Regions from separate parts of the Homo sapiens genome. Here region 2 is linked to region 1. A link means that fine-mapping ties the variant in region 1 to the expression of a gene that starts in the linked region. Tissue or cell type: whole blood. Region 1 holds a variant in brackets; the other region holds the start of a gene. All regions are shown on one strand. Distances are from middle to middle.

Region 1 (8,104 bases):
TTGGTGCGTTTACAATCCCTGAGCTAGACACAAAAGTTCTCCACGTCCCCACTAGATTAACTAGATGCAGAGTGTTAATTGGTGTATTTACAAACCCTGAGCTAGACACAGAGTGCTGATTGGTGCATTTACAAACTTTGAGCTAGATACAGAGTGCCGATTGGTGCATTCACAATCCCTTAGATAGACATAAAGGTTCTGCAAGTCCCCACCAGATCAGCTAGACACAGAACGCCGATTGGTGCATTTACAAACCTTGAGCTAGACGCAGGGTGCTGATTGGTGCATTTACAAACCTTCATCTACATACAGAGTGCCGATTGGTGTATTCACAATCCCTTAGCTAGATAAAAAGGTTCTCCAAGTCCCCACCAGATTAGCTAGATACAGAGTGCCGATTGGTGCAGCCACAAACCCTGAGCTAGACAGAGGGTGTTGATTGGTGTGTTTACAAACCTTGAGCTAGATACAGAGTGCTGATTGGTGTATTTACAACCCCTTAGCTAGACATAAAGATTGTTCAAGTCCCCACCAGACTGACTGAGCCCAGCTGGCTTCACCCGGTGGTATTCCCCAGCGGGGCCGCAGGTAGAGCTGTCAGTCCCGCCCGTGGACCCGCACTGTTTAGTCCTTTGGGCGGTCAATGGGACTCTGTGCTGTGAAGTAGGGGGCGGCGCTCGTCCGGGAGGCTCAGGAGACTCGGGCTGTGCAGGAGCCCAGGGCGGGGTTGGGACGGGGGGCTCAGGCATGGTGGGCTGCAGGTCCCGAGCCCTGCCCCATGGGGAAGCAGCTAAGGCCTGGCAAGAAATCGAGGACAGCCGTTGTTGGCCCAAGTGCTAAGTTCCTCACTGCCTGGGCCGGCGGGGCCGGCCGAGCCCAAGCCCACCCAGAACTCGCTCTGGCCCGCAAGCGCCGCGCGCATCCCCGGTTACTGCCCGTGCCTGTCCCTCCACACCTCCCCGCAAGCCAAGGGAGCCGGCTCCGGCCTCGGCCATCCCTGGAAGGGATCCCACAGTGCAGCGGTAGGCTGAAGGACTCCTCAAGCACGGCCAGAGTGGGCGTCGAGGCCGAGGAGGTGCCAAGAGCGAAGGGGGGCTGCCAGCAGGCTGGCACCTCTCACTAGCGGGGAAGGAAGTGTGACTGGGTTTCTGAGGAGGAGCTGTTAAAGATGCTTTTAAATTCCAGGATCCCTCCCCGACTCCTGGACGGGCCCTTTCCCACTGCAGCACAAGCCTGGGGACAGATGTATTTTCAGGAGAGGGGAAAGGAGAAGGTCTCTGCACTGGGGACCAGGGGCACAGCTGCGGGGGAGGACCCGAGAGTCAGTGGGGAGGGTGGTGTGAATGTTTACACCCTAAAGAATGCAGCAGCATACCACCAAAGTCTCTAATATCAAGGAGACGCAAGGAAGGGGGAAAAGCAACTTGGGGAAATGGGACACTGCAGAGAAAAGATAACTTCCAGAACCCCCTCGAGTATTAATAAGGGAAACTGACCTGTCTCTAGCTAGAGACTCAAAACCAAGTCAGGACAGCATGTTTTTAAAGCCAGATGACAGCAATATAGAGAAAAGAGAGTGTATTCATAAAAGAAGAATGCAATGAGGTTTTTTGTTTTGTTTTAGTTTTTTGTTTTGTTTTGAGACGGAGTCTCTCTCTGTCGCCAGGCTGGAGTGCTGTGGCGTGATCTCAGCTCACTGCAACCTCCGCCTCCCAGGTTCAAGTGATTCTCCTGCCTCAGCCTCTGGAGTAGCTGGGATTACAGGCACGCGCCACCACGCCAGGCTAATTTTTTTATTTTTAGTAGAGACGGGGTTTCACCATGTTGGCCAGGGATGGTCTCGATCTCCTGACCTCGTGATCCGCCCACCTCAACCTCCCAAAGTGCTGGGATGACAGGCATGAGCCACCGCGCCCGGCCCACAATGAGTTTTTTTAAAGTAGCATTCAAGAGAACAAAGAAAGATCTATTGGAAATTAAAAATATAATAGAAATGAAAAGTTCAAGGTAAAACTGGAAATCTCCCAGAGTAAAATGACAAGGAGATGAAAAATAAGTCAAGGAACTGGAGACTTGATGGTGGAGAGATGAAGAGAATCCCCGTGTGACGGGAAAAGGGGCCTGCCAGATGATTGCTGGACACCAGCGTGGGAGCAACTAGCCCGGAGGGTCTGCATGGAGACCAAACTGGGAGGATATATGATGAAAATGAACCTACTGGGACAGGACCCAGACAATGAGCAGAAAGTTTGGAGTTGAATTAGCCACAGCAGACAGAAAAGTAGGCAATTTTTTAAAAAAAAGGACAGTTGTTAATTTGGGGGAAACTTAATAGCTAAGCACAAAAGAAAAAAGTAGTTGCAATATTACAAGATTGACTCTGAACACAGATAGTCACACTGACACAAATAATGGAAATTGATGTGAAAACTCCAAGCTACCCGGGAGACTGAGGCAGAAGGATGGCTTGAACCCTGGAGTTCAAATCTGCTCTGGGCAGCATAGGGAGACTCCGTGTCTAACAAAAAGTAATAAAAGTTAAAACATAACTGGGATGACAGGCAAGAGGACAGAAGTGAAAATATGTGGAGAATGAAGAACTAAATCTTCAACTTTCATAGAAGAAAATAACTAATGTTTTAAACTGAAAAATAAAGCAATACAAGCTTGTTAATTAAATTTATCCAGGTAAATACCAAAATAATCAGTTAAAAGAACATAACTGACACTAGCAAAGGAGAAATTGGGGAAGTGGGTATAGGGGAAGTGGTTTTTTTTAACTTAATAATTTGATTGACTTTGAAAAATAAGGGCGTGGCATGATGGTTCATGTCTGTAATCCTAGCACTTGGGAGGCCAAGGCAGGCAGATGGCTTGAGCCCAGAAGTTTGAGACCAGCTTGAGCAACACAGTGAGACCCCATCTCTACAAAAAATACAAAAAATAAGTGGATGTGGTGGCGTGCACCTGTAGTCCCACCTACCTACGAGGCTGATGTGGGAAGATTGATTGAGCCCAGGAGGCAGAGGTTGTAGTGAGCTGAGGTCGAGCCACTGTACTCCAGCCTGGGTGACAGAGTGAGACCCTGTCTCAAACCTTTTAAAAAAGAAAAATAAGTACATACATATACATTTGACAAAAAGTGAAACGGCAATATTGGATGTTTTTGCAAGTGGAAAAAATGTTTATTCTAAACTAAAGTAACATTAATATAAAGTTTAGACCTTTTTTTCACAATAAAGAAACAGAATCCCCTGGCTATCATTATGGTAGGCTAACACTAAAATGAATGAAATTTCTCATCCAAAACAGGTAGAGTTATTTAATTTCCATAAGAAATTCACAACTCATCTTTGAAGCAATGATATTAATTACATGAGACAT[C/T]CATAGGAAGTTTAAATCATGAAAGTATGCATCCTTTCTATCAATGCTTTTTATAGAAGTGAAAAACAAGGCCGGGCGTGGTGGCTCATACCTGTAATCCTAGCATTTTGGGAGGCCAAGGTGGGTGGATCATGAGGTCAGGAGTTCAAGACCAGCCAGGCCAACATGGTGAAATCCTGTCTACTAAAAATACAAAAAAAAAAAATTAGCCAGGCATGGTGACACACACCTCTAATCCCAGCTACTCTGGAGGCTGAGGCAGGAGAATTGCTTAAACCCAGGAGGCGGAGGTTGCAGTGAGCCAAGATCACACCACTGCACTCCAGCCTAAGTGACAGAGCAAGACTCTGTCTCGGGAAAAAAAAAAAAAAAAAAAGAAGTGAAAAACATCTTTACAAAGGCCAGTTTCCCATATTTCAATATAGATGTAAAATTCAAATGGCTTTTAGAAGTTTTCAAATTTGTAGGAAAACCCCCCACCCAATAAATCTTCTTGTCCAAATCAAGGTAAAAACTAATTTTCAGAATCTGAGAGTCAGAAGGGCCAGGCCCTCTGACTTATGAAAGTTTCTCATCTAGGATTTGGGGCATGATGAGTCCTTGGCCAGGCCTTTATTGTGGAAACCCACAGCACATTCACAGCCAGGCCACAACACATGTGGAACTAAAGTCCACCCCCTCCCTTTTTCTTTTTTCTTTAAATGAGCAGATTATTCTCAAGACTTCCTTTTTATTTATTTATTTATTTATTTATTTATTGAGACGGAGTTTTGCTTTTGTTGCCCAGGCTAGAGTGCAATGGCGCAATCTTTGCTTACCGCAGCCTCTGCCTCCCAGGTTCAAGTGATTCTCCTGCCTCAGCCTCCCGCGTAGCTGGGGTTACAGGTACGCACCACCATGCCCGGCTAATTTTGTATTTTCAGTAGAGACGGCTTCTCCATGTTAGTCAGGCTGGTCTCAAACTCCTGACCTCAGGTTTTCTGCCCACCTCGACCTCCCAAACTGCTGGGATTATAGGCGTAAGCCACCACACCCAGCCAGACTTCCATCTTAAACTGGGTTTGGAGTTTATTGTCTCCTCTCCTCACGGTTTTTCCTAGCTCAGACATCTGGTCAAAATCTACCCTCTCTCAGTCATATTGTGGCTGTCTGTCCTTTTCTTTTCTTTTTTCTTTCCTCCCCTCCCCTCCTCTCCCCTCCCTGTCCCATCCCTTTCCTTTCCTCTCTTTCTTTCTTTCCTTTATTTTCTTCTTTTTTCTTTTCTTTTCTTTCTTTCCTTTATTTTCTTCTTTCTTCTTTTCTTTTCTTTCTTTCTTTCGTTTTCTTCTTTTTTTTCCTTTTTGAGACAGTCTCACTTTGTCTCCCATGCTGGAGTGCACTGATGCGATCTTGGCTCACGGCAGCCTGTATCTCCCCGGCTCAAGCAATCTTTCCCCCTCATCTTCACTAGTAGCTGAACTGTAAGCTTGTGCCACCATGCCAGCTAATTTAAAAAAAAATTTGTAGAGATGGGGGTCACACTATGTTTTGAACTCCTAGGCTGGTCTCAAACTCCTAGGCTCAAGTGATCCTCCCGCCTTGGCCTCCCAAAGTGCTGGGATTACAGGTAGGAGCCACCACACTCAGCCCCGAGACCTGTCATTTCTTTATCTCATAGTCACCCTTATCTGAGTGGCCCACACCCTTTCTGTTCATGCAGCTGCCCGTCTCAACAGCTTACGGACACACACCTGTAGCTCAAGCTGTTTCTCAAAGAAGTAGCTCATAGAACAAGATTGAGAAACTCTGTAGAACCAGACCCTTCTTTCTCCTCTGAACCAGAGGCTGTCTCTAGAACTGTAAGAACACAGCACCATAGGCCGGGGCCAGTGGCTCACGCCTATAATCCCAGCACTTTGGGAGGCCGAGGCAGGTGGATCACCTGAGGTCAGGAGTTCGAGACCAGCCTGACCAACATGGTGACACCCCATCTCTACTAAAAATACAAAAATTAGCCAGGCACGGTGGTGCACACCTGTAGTCCCAGCTACTCGAGAGGCTGAGGTAGGAGAATTGCTTGAACCCAGGAGGCGGAGGTTGTGATGAGCCAAGATCATGCCGCTGCACTCCAGACTGAATAACAGAGTGAGACCTGTCTCCAAAAAAAAAAAAAAAAAAAGGAGAGAGGAAATGATGGGCAAGGTGTGGGAAAAGCTATCAAGCATACTCTTTAATTAGGAAAGGGAGGAATCTGCACTTTGGAAGAGAGTGGAGATAATGCAGAAGGCAGAGGAGACAGATGACAGGAGCTGTCTGCCCAAATACCCTGGAGTCTTTTTTTCTTTTTTTTTTTTTTTTTTTGAGACAGAGTCTCACTCTGTCACCCAGACCGGAGTGCAGTGGCATGATCTCGGCTCACTGCAACCTCTGCCTCCTGGGTTCAAGCGATTCTTCTGCCTCAGCCTCCGGAGTAAATGGAACTACAGGCGTGTGCCACCATGCCCAGCTAATTTTTTTTGCATTTTTAGTAGAGACAGGGTTTTACCATGTTAGACAGGATGGTCTCGAACTCCTGACCTCAGGTGATCTGCCCACCTTGGCCTCCCAAATTGCTAGGATTACAGACATGAGCCACTGCACCCGGCCACTTGATTGCTTTTTATTCTATTTTCTCCTCCAATTGTGTGTTTTCAAATAACCTGTCTTTAGCTCACTGATTCTTGGCTCAACTTGATCCATTCTGCTGTTGAGAGCCTCTAATGAATATTTTAATTCAGCAAATGTATTTCTTAGTTCCAATATTTCTGTTTGTTTGTTGTTATTTCAATCTCTTTGTTAAATTTCTCTGATGAATTTCTGAATTGCTTTTCTGTATTATCTTGGAGATCACTGAGTTTCCTTAAAACTACTATTTGACTTATTGGTCAGAGAGCTCACATATCACCATCCTGTTGGGGTCAGTTACTGGTTCCTTGGTTTGTCCATTTTGGAGGATTGTTGTTCCCTGTTTGCCGTTGTTTCTTCTGGATGTACGTCTGTCTTTGCATTGAAACATTATGTATTCCAGTCTTCTCTAGCTTGTTTGGGTTTTTATTGAATATATTTGCTTAGAAGTTATTCACTGCTAGGCCACTGCCCCCTTTTCAGCTCTGGGTGGCACCTTAAAGCCCAGGTTCACTTTGACTCTAGTAACTGATCAGTATACTGCCCTTCCTGGCTAGGAGTTTGTGCCCAGGGGACCTGTGAGCTGAACCCCCTACAGTGTCGTACTGCTAAATAGTCACTCTGACTTGGTGCCTCCTTTGGTTGAGTTACAGAACAGAATTTCCAGGGTGGGGATGGTAGTCCTGCCTCCTCCCTTTGTCTCTGCCTGTTCTCAGAGATATTTCTCCTTTTATGCTTCCTGTGGGTTAAGGAAGGAACGGATCTCCTGCCGGGGAACCCAAGATGGTGGGGGAGCTGTTTGTTGACCTTGATCTTACTTACACCAGTGTAGAAACAGTGAGTTGGGGGGAAATTTTCCACACACTTGCTGCCAGGTAGAACGAGGGGAGGGGTGTCACAGATGTGGAAATCTGATTATCTTACCATCTTCTCGGGTTTTTTTCACCTCTTTGTGGCCCTGAAAACTGTCTTATCTTCATATTTTAGTTCTGGGATATTTCTGGTGATCATCTCGGTGCAAGTCAGGGTTTACTGTTACTTGCAACCAGAAGCACACCAGTTGGTGCACTCTTCCATCCAGGCAGAGCAGGTTCTCTGTCATCTACCTCTGGCATGTAGCTCAGCTTTTCACCCTCCCAGTCCCCACCCAAACCTATCCATCCCTCAGTCTGGCTCTGGTCCTACCAGTCCCACCCAACCACTCCAATCCATGCAATTTGCTCCTTTCTCTGTACATCTATGGCATGTACCTCTGGGCCACACAATTTAGCACTTAGACCTCACATTCTTTCCAAATCATTTGTGTGTGAGTGTGAACATGTGAGTGTGTGTGTGTCCACGTGTGTGTTATTGCATAAGAAACAGCAATATTAAGGATAGGAGATAACATATAACCCTTGTATATTCCCCAATAGCATTCTGTTGATAGGCTTAGAATAATATTCAATTTAGAAAAATAATACAGTGAATGAACTATATGGTTTTTTTGATTTTCATCAACTTTCTACTTGCTGGGGAAGAAGTTTTATTTTATTTTGATAGGAGGATGGGATGTTGGGAAAAGAATCTAAGCCACATAAGTCTATGTTTAACGTAAACATTTACTCCTAGCTTTCAAACCTCTATTGCAACCTCCAATCAGACTCCGTGTGGTAAGTCTCTTTATGAATGCAGCGTGAGGCCAGGCGCGGTGGCTCACGCCTGTAATCCCAGCACTTTGGAAGGCTAAGGTGGACAAATCGCTTGAGCTCGGAGAGTTTGAGAACAGCCTGGACAACATGGCAAAACCCCATCTCTACCAAAAAAAAAAAAAAAAAAATTAGCCAGGTGTGGTGGTGTGCCCCTGTAGTCCTGCTATTTAGGGGGCTGAAGTGAGAAGATCTCTTGTGCCTGGGAAGTTGAGGCTGCAGTAAGCCATGTTTGCACTACTGCATTCCAGCTTGGGTGACAAAGTAAGACTCAAAAAAAAAAAAAAAAAACAAAAACCAGCAGCATAAAAGCTACATAAAAAGAGCCCAAGGAAGGAAAGAGGTCATTAGCCCATTTATGCCTAGTGTTCCATTATCGGAATGCTAAG
Region 2 (8,104 bases), 100 kb before region 1:
TTCAACAGATTAAAAATAAGTAATAACTCAGATAGAAAAGGGTTTACAAGTAGAAAAGGTGAATTCTCACACTGCAGGTTTAATCTTCTCTTGCGTCATTGTGGTATACTGGATTCAAATCTAGCTTAACAACTTAACTAGCTGTGTGACCTTAGGCAAGCCATTTAAATATTTTAACCTCAGCTTCCCATCTGTAAACTGGGAAGTTTGTTATGAGGCTTGAGATAACAAACATCCTATACAAGGCACATCACAGGTATTTGCTGGGTAATGGTAACTATTATTAACCACAGACCTGATATTTTTATAAAATATACAAGTTAAATTTAATAACCATGTAAATGTTACCTGCCGTATATTAAGCTAAACTAAATCTTGCTTTGCAATAATTTCCCAGAAAAGTGTTTAGACTATCTACGCTATGAGTCACTCGAGCTCTGGGCCTGTTTTCTCAGACTCTCCCTTGTCTCTCGCATCCAATTCTTAGCTGAAGCTGTCACTCCACCTTGGCAATACCTACTTTTCCATCCACTGCCCTCACCCTGGTTCAGACTTTCATTCCCTCCCTCCTTCACTGGTGCAATGGCTTCCTTAAGCCAACGCCTAAACAGTCCAGAAGCTCAGTTATGATCGTCTCACTTCCCTGCTCCTCCAATGGAGGAGACTTTCAATGGCTTCAGTGAAAACCTGCACCAGCTTCCCTCTGCCTATCCAAATCCCTCTCCGGGGCATTCAAGGTCTCCAATGCCTTGGTCAAAAAAGGATGCTTCTTCCTTTCATCTTACTGCCTCCCTGCTCAGAGAGAATGCTCTAAAAGGAGATCACTCCACAGGCTTCGCAGACTTTTCTCATGCTCTTCTCTCCCTCTGGAAGGCTCTCTGCCCACCCATCCTGACACAGCTGAAATACTCCAAAGTCTAGTTCGACACCACTTCCTTTATAAAGTCTTCCCAGTGCCCCCACGACAGATGTTCTCTCACCTCCTTGTGAAGTCTCTGAAGTCACGTACACCCCTCCTGTGCATTCCGCTTTTGCGTGCTAGTCTTCGTGTACTTATCTTCCTTGGAAGGGCCTACACTCCTTTCAAGGCTATAGATTTCCACCTTGATCTCCCCTGACACTTAACACAGAATGCAGTCAATGCTCGGTAAATACTTGCTGAATTAAGGAATTAATGGAATTTGAGATACTTGCATGGTGTAATTACAGGCCTGTCCATTCTAAAAGTCAGGCTGTGAAGGCACAGGGAAAACCAAGGTGAGGATCCTTGGGTCCTCAGGCCAACCCAGCCCTAAGTGGATTCTAGGATCTTCGGCACGTCCTCAGCTTCCTGTCTCTGAAGTGTGCGTGTGGGGTTTCTGCCTAGGCTAAGTGATCCTTAGGGGTCCCCCCGCTCTAAAATTCAGGCAAATTGACCTGTTTGTCTCATAGTAAGAAATAAGCTTCTCTTAAAACCTAATTTAAGACTAACTTTAAAATGTATATGAAATAATGATCACACGTATCTCAGTTTTGAAATCATGAGATCTGAAGAAAAATAAGCATTAATATTATAACCACATATTTCTGAAACTTAATGACTATTTTCTGCTTTTAATCCTCCCACAAATTCACCCTTTGATGGGTGAAAGAAAGATCTAACTGTGAGACTTTGTTACTTTGGTAACAAATTTCACTATTTATAATTTGTTTTAATGACAGGAATAAGACTAGAGTAATTCTGCTGTAATTGAAAACAGTATTAATATAATGTCCTATCCAAGAAGAATCCAAAATTTACATTTCAAAACATGTACATGTCTATTATTTCATTATCAAGGTTGTAACATTTACCAAATGTTAACAAAATTAAGTAGTTGCAGATTCCATTCAATCTAAAACAAAGACACAAAGAACAGGCAGGTGGTCGGGGGAAAAAGAGGGAATTAGGATACAATGAGATCTAATACTGTCCTAAAAACGGGTAAGTGCTGTTCGTGGAAAGGACAGAGAGAGAGAGAGATGTTTTAAAGTCATTTTCAAAGGAAAACTAAGAGTTGGGCCCTCCACACATTCAAATTTCTTTATTCAGGGAAGGGCTAGATACAAAACACTCATCTCAAAAATCACCAATCTATTAATAATTCAGCCATAAAGTAGCAGTTTTTGAAATAAATGAGTTTAAAGTCAACCAATAGTTTTTATACTAGTTTTCATGCTAAAAAAAAAAAAAGAAAGAAAGAAAAGAAAACCACAAAAACCTTTATTTAGAAAACCTTCGGGTCAGAAAAATACTTATGAAATTCTTAATCATCATTCACTTAGCAGAGAGCAGTGGCTCCCTTGGGCACAGAGGGCACCCTGCTTCTACAAAGTGCACGCCACAGCCAAACATATCCCTCCACACAAAACCAGAATGCCACCAGAAAAACTGCGACATGCCCTGCCTTCAGGCGGTCGCTATTATTTGAAAACGCAGAAGTCAGCATTTGTGGGCTATTTTGTAGTCAGTAGCACCACTGCAGGCTGGGTCAGGCTCGAGAGGAACCTCCATTGCCAGGATCCCCGGAAAGAATGACCGCCTCCCGACTCAAGCCCTGAGCTTGACGCCCTGCTGCCGGGCAGAGCAACATTAATGAGAAGAAAAAACATCCTTCCTCAAAGTCAGGTAATTTTTCACTTGGGTCTCTTTCCCCTTCCCAGAGAGATGTGAGACTTGACAAGTTTGTAAGTAGGCTTTAAGTTGGAAAAACAGAGCACGGGATGATACTACACAAGGAAAAAACATGGAGCCTGCCCAAAATTAAATGTTTCAATGGGGAATCCTAATAAAACATGTACCTTGATGCAGTTCATTAACCACTTAATTTATTAAAGTTTTACTCCCCTACAAAAGGTATAAGAAGCCAAGGGAGTGAAATATTCGATTAATAGTACTGATTATTGTCTATTTAAAAGATAAGAAATCCAAGCTAGCAAAAGCATAGTTATAAATAATAATCAAAATAAATACTTGGTTCATGAAAACGCCAAAAAGAGCTACTAAAGAGTCCTTCGCATTCTATTCTGACTTGGATTTAAACTGTGTGTAACCCACACATTTAAAGGATGTGCATCTCAAATCCTGGAGGACTGCGGGAGAAAATTTAAATTTCAGATTTAAATGGCTGGCAAAATTTTAAAACAAATGTAATGAAAACCCAAGTTTTCATTCCTTCTATTGCTTGGCACATTTTCCCTGGAAATCCCCAGACACATTTTGTTCAGGAAACAAAGAACTCCAAGATTGAGACAATTCTTTGCTAACTCAAAAAAAAAAAAAAAAAAAAAAGCGAAAATAGATTTTCAGGATGCCCCATAAATAAATAAATGAATCTAAGCAGAAAACAGGTTGCAACTCGAGTAGTCCCTGCCTTCAAAACTGCTTGCAAAACAAAACTCCCTGGAGCGCATTCAGGTTGCTCCTCCCAGGCCTAGGGCCACAACGCCTGGTAAATAACGTCCCGGCGCTCAGGGCCTCTTTCCCAAAAGCCCGACGTGGGAACAACTAGCAGGGGGCGGGGAGGTGGGGCGGGCTGCAAAACGCGCACGGCTCACGTGGGCATCTAGAGTCCAGCTCCCGAGACCCGGTCAAAGCAGGGACAGGATCTCTTCCCCACCCACCCAAATGACGCCCTCGGTCTGTTTCCGCTGGGATCCGGAGAAGCTGACCCTCTCACCGGGGGGTCTTCCCGGGGCGCCTAGGCCAGGGCGGGCCCCCAGCGTCGTCCTCTCCCACCCCCCCACTCCCCTGCCCACACATTCTGGATCAAAGCAGACATGCGGCCGGCGCTCTGCGATCCAAGGCACACTGGGGTCTTTCATCCGGTGTTTTTAAAAAGGAGGAAACAAAAGGCTCAGAGGCAGGGCCCCAGGTGCGCTCGCCCGCGGGGGCTGCGGCGCGGACGACCGAAGGTAACAGGCACGTCCCGGCCGAACTTCGAGACCCGGGCCCGGCAGCCGCCCCGGCGGGGAAGTTTCGTTTCCCGGACAGGGGAAGCCGAAGCGCCTCCTCGGGACAGGACCCCGCGCCGCCGGGACGCGCAGCCTTGATACAAACGTCCTTGGGTGGCCGAGGAGTCCAGGAGTCGTTGCAGTCGTGGTCTCGGGGTTACTGGGGATTGGGGGTGAGCCGGTAGAGACTGCGGAGCCCCGAGCACCACTCGGCCACCAGACAGGACCGGGGCCCCGCTCCTTTCCTCTTTTACTTTGATTACGGTTGGAGAGGTTGGGTTTTGTGGTCGCAGCCCCACCTCGCCTGACCTCCCATTCGCGGGCTGGGACAAAGGCGGCTGCAGCCGTGTCCAGCAGGCAGGGGACAGCCCCGCGCGGGCCCGACGCCCCCTCTGACCACCCGCCCGGGCTCGCGGGAGGGGAGAAAGGTACGACCGAGTCCCTGTTCGCAGGACAGGGGCCAACCTGTCCCCGCACGCGTCAGGACACCCGGTCCTGCTCCCAGCGCGGCCGGGAAGTTCTTTCGGGACCTGGGGCAAAAAAACCTTTCCACCTTCGGGACCCGAGTCTCCCAGTCGTCCAGAGGAGGACGGTCCCTCCCTGTCCCGCGAGCCCCGCAGCCCGCGCTCTCCGGGCAGGTACCCACCAGTAGCCGTCCGAGTTCTGGTCGGTGATCACGCCGCGCCGAGAATAGTACATCCTGCTGGTGCCCCCGCCGCCGCTGGTCACCTCGTAGCGCAGGTCCGGGCCAGACTCGGCGCGGATCATGCGGCCCAGAGTGTTGATCCGCGGGTGGGAGCCTCCGTTGCAGCTCATGTCGGCGGGCAATCGGGAGAGCGGCTCAGCGCCGAGGCATAAGCGAGGCGGGCCGGCGCGGAGAAAGCGGAGGGGGCCAAGGATAGGCGGACGGCCGGGGAACCGGGCGGGAGTGCGGAAGGCTCGCGAGGTCGCTGCTCGCTACCTGGGCCCTCCCGAGGCCGCTGCGAGCGCGGAGACGGCGACGGGCCGGGGGCAGGAGCGGGAGGAAAGCTGTGGCTCGGAGGGCGGCAAGGGCGCAGAGGAGCTGCGTCGGAGCTGGGTGTTGGTGTTGGTCGGCGGCGGAGCGAGTCTCCTCCCCGCTGGCACTGGGCGCCTAGGCCACACCTGGCCGGTTTCTTCCCAGGGTGGGGTGCGGCCGCCGCGCCTTCCCCGCCCCCCCGCGGGTGTCACCGACGCGCTCCGGCCGCCCCTCCCCACCTGCGCCCGCCGCCCGCGACTCCGCCCTGCGCCACCGAGGCCTGAGTAACACCGGGCGGGGCGGGGGCGGGGTCCCCGAGACCCAAGCGCCCTGGGCGAAGCCACCGCGGGGAGGACCTGCGCTCGCGGGGGCTGCTGCGCTCTGCGCTGGGGCCTCTCGGGCTGGGAATGCGTGGCCCGGCTTTTGAGGATTTCCTCGGTCCCCGGGCGGAAATAGCTGGAATGGAGGGGCCTCTCGATTGGAGACTTACTGGTCAAATATTTACTTTTGTTGATCACTGGAAACGCTACCTACCACGCATTGACTAGGACCACAGTGAGGAGGGAACGCTTTAGATGATAGAGTTTTGTTTGGGGGCTTTTTTTTGTTTTGTTTTATTCCAGGAATTCAGGAAATTGCCCCAGAAGTCCGATTTCTGATGTGTAAAACCTTTTTTTACAGAAAACCACGACTTCCTGGAAAAGTCTTCACCGTAAATATTAATCTCTTTGGCATGAAGAGGAAAACACTGCAGCTAATTTTTCATGGGATAACAAAAATATAAACTGCAATTTCTTTTATTTTTTCCCTTTCGATGGTCTTTTTAAACGAGGAGTAAAGATTTCAACGCCAGGTCCATTTTCCAAATTTTGTACCAGAACCTTGAGGATGCTTGTCTCTCGCGCGCTTCTCCGCAGACCGAACCCTCTCCGGAACTCAGAGCTGTTCACCCAAGTCAGCGGAGGAGGCCTCCTGGGACTTGAGCCTGAGGGTGGCGAAGAACCCTAGGCAGAGATCATCAACTTGGTACCGATGAGTGACGCGGAGCTTGAACATTCCAGCGACTTGCTCCAGGGCCACTCCCAGTTAAGAGGCTGAGTGTTAACTGCAAGAGGCTGAGTGTTAACTACGCCGTTGGCTCCAGGAACCGAACCGGGTTTGGATACAGACCCAGTCACACCATCCATGAAAAGCTGTTTCTATAATATGAAAAATTGTTAAATGACGCTTTAGTAAAAGCCATTTAAAGATCTTTTCTAATAAATTTTTCATCTTTCCAAACAATGCCGCTAATTACCTTCTGATACAGTGCGTTTCCAAAATGTTTATGAACTGAAAACAAAAATAAAAAACTACATTTTTATGTTGTAAAGGGAGTGGGGGGGACTTTCTAAAATTTGTCGTATTATAGCACTTCTCATGACAACTTGACCCTTTAGGCATAATTTTTGACAAAATGTCTTGTTCTTTTTCTTTTTACAGCTGAACGTCTTAAATTCAAGGAGTAAACACATATAATGAGATAAAAGTTTATCACTGTTAGCACAACCAATAATTTGCATCGTAGTCTCAATTTCCTCGAATCTTTAATAAAACCAAAGTGGTCAAGTGTTTAAATGATTATACAGATTGAGTACCCCTTATCCAAAATGCTTGGGACCAGAAATATTTTGGATTCTGGATTTTCTTGGATTTTGCAATAGTTGCATAGACGTAACGAGAGATCTTTGGGGATGGAACTCAAGCCTAAACATGAAATTTATTTATGTTTTCTATATGCCTTATACACATGGCCTGAAGGTAATTTTATACAATATTTTAGATAATTTTGTGCATGAAACAAAGTTTTGACTGCACTTTGACTGCAAGTCATCACATGAGGTCAGGTGTGGAATTCGCCACTTGTGGTCATCATGTCAGTGCTCAGAAAGTTTGGATTTGGGAGCATTTTGGATTTCAGATTTTCAGATTAGGGATGCTCAACCTGTACAAACACTGATCTATAGACAAGACGGTGGTTTTTCTCAAACAGAATCAATGGCTGGAAGTCAGCCTCTGCACAAACAGCCCATAATATCCATTGGTGGAGGAGAGAAAGACATGCATGGAGGGAAAATGTCAGTGCATAATGTACAACATTTCATTTAGGATGTTTTCCCTCTATGCATCTCATTTGTTCAGCAAATAATTATAACCTAGGATATGGAAATACTCTGCAACATACAAAGATAAATAGGGTCCAGTCACTGCCCTTAAATATATTATAGTAAAACTTTGATTTAAGAAATTCAGGGGCCCGTGCGGTGGCTCATGCCTGTAATCCCAGCACTTTGGGAGGCAGAGGCGGGTGGATCACTTGAGGTCAGGAGTTCGAGACCAGCCTGGCCAACATGATGAAACCCCATCTCTACTAAAAATACAAAAATTAGCTGGGTGTGGTGGCAGGCGCCTGTAATCCTAGCTGTTTGGGAGGCAAAGGCACGAGTATCACTTGAATCCAGGAGGTGGAGATTATATTGAGCAGAGATCGTGTCATTGCACTGCAGCCCAGGTAACAGAGCAAGACTCTGTCTCAAAAAAAAAAAAAAAAAAAAAATTCAGGGATTATTCTTCCCTAATGTGTAATAAAGAGGCTACACAATTGCACGGTAGAATTATCCTTTTAAAAAAAACCCACATATCTATTAACCACCCCCCCAGTGGTAACAAAAGCTCTTGTTAGCCAAGGGTCCCCTTACGGTCATAGGAACCAGGCTCCACACAGACCCAAACACCACCCAGACTCACAAAACTGTTCAATCTGCAGGCAAAACAGAGGAGGAGGCGAAGAGCCCACGCCACCAATCACACCTCTGGCTGCGTTGCTTCCTCACCCATCTTACTGCTTCCTGGGCTTTTCCAGGCATCCCCAAGAACACGAACGGCTTCCAGCTACCAAACATGCCTGCTCTAGGAAGACAGTGGCTTTCATTTATCTTTCTCTAAGGGTGATAAAGAAAGATAAGAGGATAAAATAAACAGATTGACATGCCCGACAGATGGAACACCCCCCACCTCAACACACACCCACACACATGCACATACACACACACACACATCAGTTGTCCAGGTTGGCTCATCACACAGTGAAGAGCG

Evidence for each region. PIP is the estimated chance that this variant, and not a neighbour inherited with it, causes the effect.
Region 2: DSP starts here. The variant in region 1 is fine-mapped to the expression of DSP in whole blood (TOPMed, PIP 0.92).

What each region holds. Positions count from the first base shown.
Region 1 is chr6:7,434,118-7,442,221 of GRCh38, reverse strand. The region is part of intron 2 of LOC102724234 (a long non-coding RNA gene); the gene reads right to left. Among named protein-coding and RNA genes, the nearest start is that of RIOK1, 48 kb to the right of the region's middle. The variant C/T (reference allele first, on the strand shown) is at 3,385.
Region 2 is chr6:7,538,600-7,546,703 of GRCh38, reverse strand. DSP (desmoplakin) reads right to left here and starts at 5,033. Exons shown (of 24, transcript NM_004415.4): 1 at 4,619-5,033. The coding sequence starts at 4,788. DSP-AS1 (DSP antisense RNA 1) reads left to right here and starts at 3,621. Exons shown (of 2, transcript NR_183331.1): 1 at 3,621-3,658; 2 at 5,651-6,253. RefSeq lists an enhancer at 7,045-8,104.